2 linked regions of the Homo sapiens genome follow. The protein of the gene in region 1 purifies or fractionates together with the protein of each later gene. This does not show direct contact. Each region holds a gene or a part of one and is shown on either strand. Other genes may lie near its edges.

The links. Proteins that work in one complex are often made in the same cells at the same time.
Region 2: the proteins of F8A2 (region 1) and CLUH purify together in Homo sapiens (affinity purification with mass spectrometry, with the first as the bait; one large-scale study listed by BioGRID). This does not show direct contact.

The regions. Positions count from the first base shown.
Region 1 is NC_000023.11:155,380,934-155,384,301, reverse strand, and holds F8A2 (40-kDa huntingtin-associated protein), read right to left. Parts: upstream 2,208-3,368; 5' UTR 2,188-2,207; coding exon 1,072-2,187; 3' UTR 501-1,071; downstream 1-500. Other genes in the region: H2AB2 (histone H2A-Bbd type 2/3), read right to left, coding at 3,168-3,368.
Region 2 is NC_000017.11:2,694,765-2,698,264, forward strand, and holds part of CLUH (clustered mitochondria protein homolog), read right to left. Parts: coding exon 3,132-3,500; intron 2,179-3,131; coding exon 1,955-2,178; intron 1,775-1,954; coding exon 1,670-1,774; intron 1,496-1,669; coding exon 1,395-1,495; intron 763-1,394; coding exon 610-762; intron 517-609; coding exon 454-516; intron 338-453; coding exon 93-337; intron 1-92. UniProt on the Homo sapiens protein: mRNA-binding protein involved in proper cytoplasmic distribution of mitochondria.

The DNA of each region.
Region 1 (3,368 bases):
TACAAAAATTAGCCCAGCGTGGTGGTGCACGCCTGTAATCCCAGGCACCCTGGAGGTTGAGGTAGGAGAATCGCTTGAACCCAGGAGGCGGAGGTTGCAGTGAGCCGAGATCACGCCACTGCGCTCCTGCCTGGGCGACAGAGTGAGACTCCATCTCGGGGGGGGAAAAAAAAAAAAAAAATCCCTATTACAAATAAAAGCTGTTGTGATCCAGACTGCATATACCTCTGCGAATGGAACCAGAACCGTGAATTCCAATGCAAATCGATGCATCGGCACCAGACCCGCTGCACTGGATGTATCTGCATTGCAGTCACCCGAGTACGGAGCACATCATAGATGATCTCTGCAGGTTCGTTGCCCACATAGGAGGCATAGCGCAAATTTCAAAGGAACGAATACATCCTGGAGCCCAAACAGCTATCTGGTTCTGCTGCTGGCCTCCTGACAAGTAGGTAAGAGAGTCACATTTTATAGACGACGGACACCAAAACCACACATGAGGAGTACAAGAGTAGCTTTATCATGGATTTAGGGCTGTGGTTACAAGGAAGCTGTAAGGAATAAAATGACTCCCATGAAGACGTACCGTGCGGACGAGTGGAAGGAGAAATTTGGCCATTACAAAGACACAGGAATATGTTAAGAAGTGAGGGGCAGGATGAAATCATCTAGGGTAGGTATTTAGAGGGAGGGCGCCGTGCAAAATAAAATCCTCACTATGAAACAAAGGCGGAGGCAGGAGGCTGCGTTGGGTGGAAGCAGCGGAGGAAGGAGACGAAAGGGATTGTCATTTTCATGTCGTGGCTTTTTAGAAGACAGCCATGTCCTCTACTCTGATTCTATCAAAATGTGTTCTCGGGGTGCTGGTAACGTTCAGCCAACGAAATAATTCCTATGGCGGCAGTAGGAATAACAAAACGCAGAAGCGGGAACGATGTCTTTTTATTCCTCCCCAGACGCAAACGTGGATGCATGAGGTTTGGTAACAGGCAAAGTCATCTGGTTAACGTGACTGATGCAAAAAGTCCCGGCCTGGGCAAAAAGAAGTCACTGGGTGAATGGGATGGATCAGACTCCCTGTCCTGAGGGGGAGATGGTTTCTTGCAGAACGAGGTGAAGGAGGTGGTTCTGCTCAGCAGTCAACAGTGGCCACATCTCCACCTGCAGCGACTTGATGGCTTCCGTGTCCTTTTCGTGGGTAGCCATGACCAAAGACTGGAGCAGCAGAAAGAGCTCCTCGGGAAGCTGGCCGCTGCTCTCCTGCCCGTGGCTGTCAAAAGCCTCCCAGGAGTACTTCTCCAGGGTCTGGGCGTGCTCCGGCAGCAGCTTGGCGGGCGGTGGTTGCAGGAGGAGCAGCAGCAGCACGCGGGACACCTCGCAGCGGACCAGCACGTCCGAGAAGGCGCCCAGGGCGGCGGGAGAGGGCGCCGCCGAGCCGGAGTTCGGAGGAAGCAGCGCGGCCGGTAGGGCGGGCGTCGCCCCGGGCCCGGGCTGGGGTGCCGGCGGCGGGGGCGGCGGCAGTGACTGCACCGGGTGGCTGCCGTGCTCCCGCGCCAGGCGCTGCATGCGCGTGAAGACCGCCAGGGCGCCGGTGTAGTCGCGCGCCAGCAGCTGGCAGGAGGCGGCCTCGCCAAGCGCCTGCAGCGCGGCCAGGGGCAGCTGGGGCAGCTGGAGCTGGGCGGCGCGCTGGAAGTGACCGGCGGCGGCGGCCGGCTGGCCCAGGTCGCGCAGGGCGGCGGCCAGCTCGAGGCAGAGGGCGGCGGCGGCGGCCGGCTGGCCCAGCTCGAGGTGCAGACGCACCGCGGCGCCCAGGGCGCTGGCGGCGGCCTGCAGCGGCTCCCCGTAGGCGGCGGGGCAGACCAGGCGCTGGCGCGCGTCGCGCTCCTGCCGCAGGAAGAGGCGGGCGGCCTCGGTGAGGGCCAGCGCCTCCCCGGGCCCGTGGAAGAGCGCCTGCTGGCAGCGCGCCACCGCCAGCTGGCACCAGGCCGCGTAGGGCAGACACTCCTGGGCGCGCAGCTCCCGGCCCAGCTGTCCGAACTGCTCGCCGGCCTCCGCCACGTTCGGCTTCCGCAGGAACCGCTTCTTCAGCTTGTTCGATACCAGCCGGTAGCGGGCCAGGAAGTCCCCGGCCTCGGGTCCCGGGCCGGCGCCGCCGCCGCCCAGGCCTGCAGCCGCTGCCGCCATGCTCGCCGCCCCAAGCACTTCCCGACGCGCCGCCGCAGCTGGCGGGCGGGCCGGGGCGGGGCGACGTGCCCTGCGTCCCCCTCGGCGGGCTGCCGCCGTGCCCGCGCCGGCTCCCCAGCCCGAGCCTGCCCCTTGCCCTGGTGAGGTGCAAAGAGCGGGATCGGAGGCGGGGCCTGGCCGGGCTGTGAGCGGCGTATGCAAATCGAGGGTCTCGGGGATGCGGATCCAAGACCCTGGGAAGGTACGCGGGGCCTGGCGGGGCACCAGCTGCTGCTAGCTCGGCTGCAATGCAAGTGGTCTAGGTTGCTAAAGGCATCCCACAGCCTCTCCATCTGAACATGACCCAAAGGAAACTCGTGACCCTAATTCCATGTCTGCGCATTTCTGGACTGTTGTCCCCCCCCCCCCCCCCCGCCCCGACTACTCAGTCCTCCGTCTTCCGGTCCAGGGCCCCTTGCCAAGCACCGGGTCCACCTCTCCGTCCCCACCCCGGTTGCCTTAGAAGTCCGTCCTGTCGCAACACTGCAGTCATGGTCTTGAGGCCCACCCGCCCCAACGAACACCATCATGCTGAGGACTTTCCCGGGCAGGCCCTGACTTGCTCAGAACCAGCGGGGGTGTCCCCTTCCCACCCAGGGCCACTCCCCTGCACTGTCACCCGGAGAGACGGCTCCTCTGTGCCATCCCTGGCTCCCACCCAACCCCAGACCCCCACCACCTCTCCATCCCTCCAGCTGTGGAGGTCTCACAACCCCCCAACCCATCTCACCGCCCCCCCACCCCCACCCCAAGGCAAAGTGACTGAAGCGGGCAGATGGCTTCCTTGAAACATTTTATTGACAGAATTAATGAAGGCCCAAGACTTTGGGGCCTGGGTTGTGGGGGGAGGGTGTTTAAGGCCGGGGGTTCAGGCCGGGGGATTTGGGGCCGGGTGGGTGGACGAGTGGACCTGTCAGGTCCCAGGGGCCGGGTGTCAGAAGCTAGTCCTCGCCAGGGGCCACTTGAGAGATGGTGGTCGTGTTGAAAAGGGTGCTCAGTAGCCTGTCGTTGTGAACCACCATGTCCAGCAGCAGGGGAGTGATGTTCCGCTCTCCGCTGTTCTGGGCCTCGTTGCCCGCCAGCTCCAGGACCTTGGCCGTCAGGTACTCAATAACCGCAGCGAGGTAGACCGGCGCCGTGCG
Region 2 (3,500 bases), on another chromosome or scaffold:
TGACCACAGGCCTTAGACGCCATCTGGGAGCAGGTGGTGGCCGCCTCATCTGCCCAATCCCACCCACCCCACCGCCCCTGCCCCGCACGCACCACTCGAGGTCGAAGTCAAAGTAGTTCTTGGCCTCCTGGCAGATGTTCTTCCAGAGCTCCTGGGGGGTCATGACAGCCCAGGCTGTGTTATCTGCAGCCCCCGGGGGCCGGTTTTTCCTCCTCTTATTCCGCTTCTTGGAGACCAGCTCGTCGGCGGGCAGGTGGGCCACGGGGTTTGGGTAGGAGCTCAGGAAGCAGTTCAGGAAGTGGCTGATGGCGGCTGAGAGGCCGGAGAGCTCGACTCCCTGCGAGGCAGGTTGGATCCGAGTCATGAGGGCCCTCAGCCCCACCTCAGGCTCTTTCCCGACGCCCCACACCACCCTGGGAGGCCATGGCCAGCCGCAGAGCGGACGGGTGGCACCTGTAAGTACGTCTTGAAGATGTGCTTGGCCGAGCGGGTGATGAGTTCTCCAATGCCGATTTTCTGGAAGGATTCAGAAGGGAGGTCTTGGTCAGGCCCCCGGCCTCCATCCCAGTCCCACAGCTCCCGTTCCGCCCCACCCCGGGCAGCACTCACAAAGACGTGGTCCAGCTGGTGGCGGGCCGGGCTCCGCAGCACCAGCTCCAGCACCTTGCCCAGGTAGCGCATGTTGATGCCCCGCTGGCGCATCACCTCTGCCAGCGTTGCCCCGTCCACGGGCAGGACCGCGTGCTCCATGCAGTCCTTCACCTGCGGGCTGCAGCAGCTCAGGCCCCCACCCAGCTCCTCTGCCTCCACCCAACTGAGTCCTTCTGGGGGAGCACAGCTATCCTGGGAGGCCCTGGAGAAGGACCCCGAAGGCTCCAGCTCCCAGTCAGGATGTCAGAATGTGCCCAGCCTCTGGCAGGAGCGCAGGCCAAGAACCAAGAGCCCGGTGGTGGTACAGGCCCCCTCTAACCATGTGGGAGAAGCAGAGGTGCCCGCTTGGGGGCACTACTTGACCCCCAGCCCCGTGTCCTGAGGCTTGGAGGCCACGGTGTTGGGGGAGCACCCAGCATCCTGGAACCAGACACAGAGCCTGCGGGAGGAGGAGGAGGATGGGCAGCCCCCACTGAGCTCTGGCCCCGTCCCCCAGCCATGCCACCATCCAGGGCTCAGAAGACTGGATTACCAGCTGCCAGCCCACACGGTGGGCTCAGCAGGGCCTGTGCCCTTGACCTCTGGGGGTCAGGCTCCCCATCTGTCAAACGGGGATGCCCACTCAGGGAAAGCTGAAAAAGTCACTCCTGCGAGCCTGTGTTCATGGGCCTCCAAGTCGGAGACAGATGAGGGACCAGCACCCTCCACACAAGCCCCACCCAGCCCCGCAGCCCCTCCCTCACCAAGCCAGGGATCTGGCAGGAGAGCAGGAAGGCAGCCGCGTCCTTCAGCAGCTGCTTCTGGTCCCGAACTTCATCCTGGCAGGACTCAGGGAAACGAACCCCTGGAGGAGGGAGAGCAGAGAGGCTGAGCCAGGCAGTGGCAAGACAAATGCCGCCTGGCGCTGGCGGGGGAAGCGCTCAGATGGGGGACAAACCCACCAGCCCCAAGGGCCCAGGCCCCCCAGCGAAGCTCTGGCCCTGGAGGGCTCCTGCGCTGGCCGGCCCCCACCACCTGCCTGGTGAGAAGATGTCAGGATTGAAGCGAATGTCGAAGGCGGTGCTGCTGATGGAGCCGACCGCCTTGCACGCGTTGCGGATCACCTCCCGGCTCCGAGGGTCTGCTGTGGAGACATGGCTCCATGAGACACGGGTCCCCTCTGCCACCGGTGGAGCTGGGCTGCGCCAAGCCTCGCCCCCTAGCTCCTTGCAGAGATGTCTGCCAGCCTCTCCCAGGTGGGGGTCATAAGCCACCCTGGCAGGGCCAGCCCGGGCTCTCTCCCGGCCATCTGCAGCAGCCCCACCTGTGCCGTCGTCTGCGGCGATGGTCTCTGCCAGCTCCTTCACCTTGGCCAGGCCGCTGGCGCTGCTACCCTCCTCCTCACTTCCCGCCTCCTGTCCTGGAGGATCCTCAGACTTGGACTCCAAGGAGGAAGGACCACCATTTTCCAGGGAGGAGGGGGTCTCCAGCTGGCTGGCGTTCTGCTGCATCAGCTGCAAGGCGGCCAGCTTCATAAAGAGGAGGTACCTGGAGCAGAGGAAACAGGGCAGAGCAGGAGCTGGACATCGGGGAGAGGAGCTCTGCTGGCCCACGGCTCCCGGCAGCTGGGGCTCCACACCCCGCAGGCATAGGGCACCTCCTGGCCGGTGTGCATGAGTCAACGCAGAAAAACCAAGATCTCCCAAGACAGGAAGAAAAAGGCGGCCGGGCGTGGTGGCTCACGCCTGTAATCCCAGCACTTTGAGGACGAGGCAGGCAGATCACTTGAGGTTGGGAGTTCGAGACCAGCCTGACCACCATGGAGAAACCCCGTCTCTACTAAAAATACAAAAAATTAGCTGGGCGTGGTGGTGCACGCCTGTAATACCAGCTATTCGGGAGGCTCAGACAGGAGAATCACTTGAACCCGGGAGGCAGAGGTTGCGGTGAGCCGGGATCGTGCCATTGCACTCCAGCCTAGGCGACAAGAGTGAAACTCCGTCTCAGAAAAAAAAAAAAAAAGGCAGCTGCGTTCTGGAGGGTATGGGAAAAGAGGAGCTCCCCATCCAGGTCAGGGCTCTCAACAGTGACAGGAAGCCACTGGCATTTGAGAGTTACTCATGCTGTGGGACCTCTGACATGGCCATTTCCCCATTTCCTAAGCACTAAACACCAGCGGCGGGGACCCCCGGTGCCCCACCTGCCCGCCCCAGCACGGGGACAGTCACAGCCACCCAGACTTCCAAGTGCTCCTTAAGAGAACAGTGTCCGCCACAGCCACATTACCCGCCTGGCTGCTCGCGAGTCTGCAGCCCGGGTTTCTGCGCTCGGGAGCCTGACAGCAGGGCAGGTGGGGACGGGTCTCCAATGACTGTGGCTAGACGGAGCCCTTCTTCACTCTCCAGCGCTTCTCCCTTCAAGGACCCAACCCCGGATCCACCCAGGGCGCCCGCACTCCCTGCAGCTGGCCCCGGCCCTGGTCCGGCAGGGCCGCCCCTCACCTGTGCTCCACGAAGGCGTCCACCAGCTCCTGGCGCAGGCAGCAGAGCTTGTGCCGGTGGGCGCGGGGGAAGCCGGCGCGGGCGCATTCCTCAGGCAGCTCCTCGCCAGGCACGGGCAGGAAGTTGAGGTCCGGGGGGAAGGTGCGCAGCAGGTCGAGGATGTAGTGGCGCCCGTCGTTGCCAATGATGCCCTTGCACTCGACCGAGGAGCAGAGCTCCACCTCCTCGTCACGGTCGTTGAGCACCTGGTGCCGCAGGATCTTGAGGGGCCGACTCGTGCGCTCCAGCAGCTCCAGGTACCGCGGGTGTGACACCACGGTCTTGCCGAAGTCGATGGAGCCGTAGATGACGCTCTGCTCCTGGTCCCGC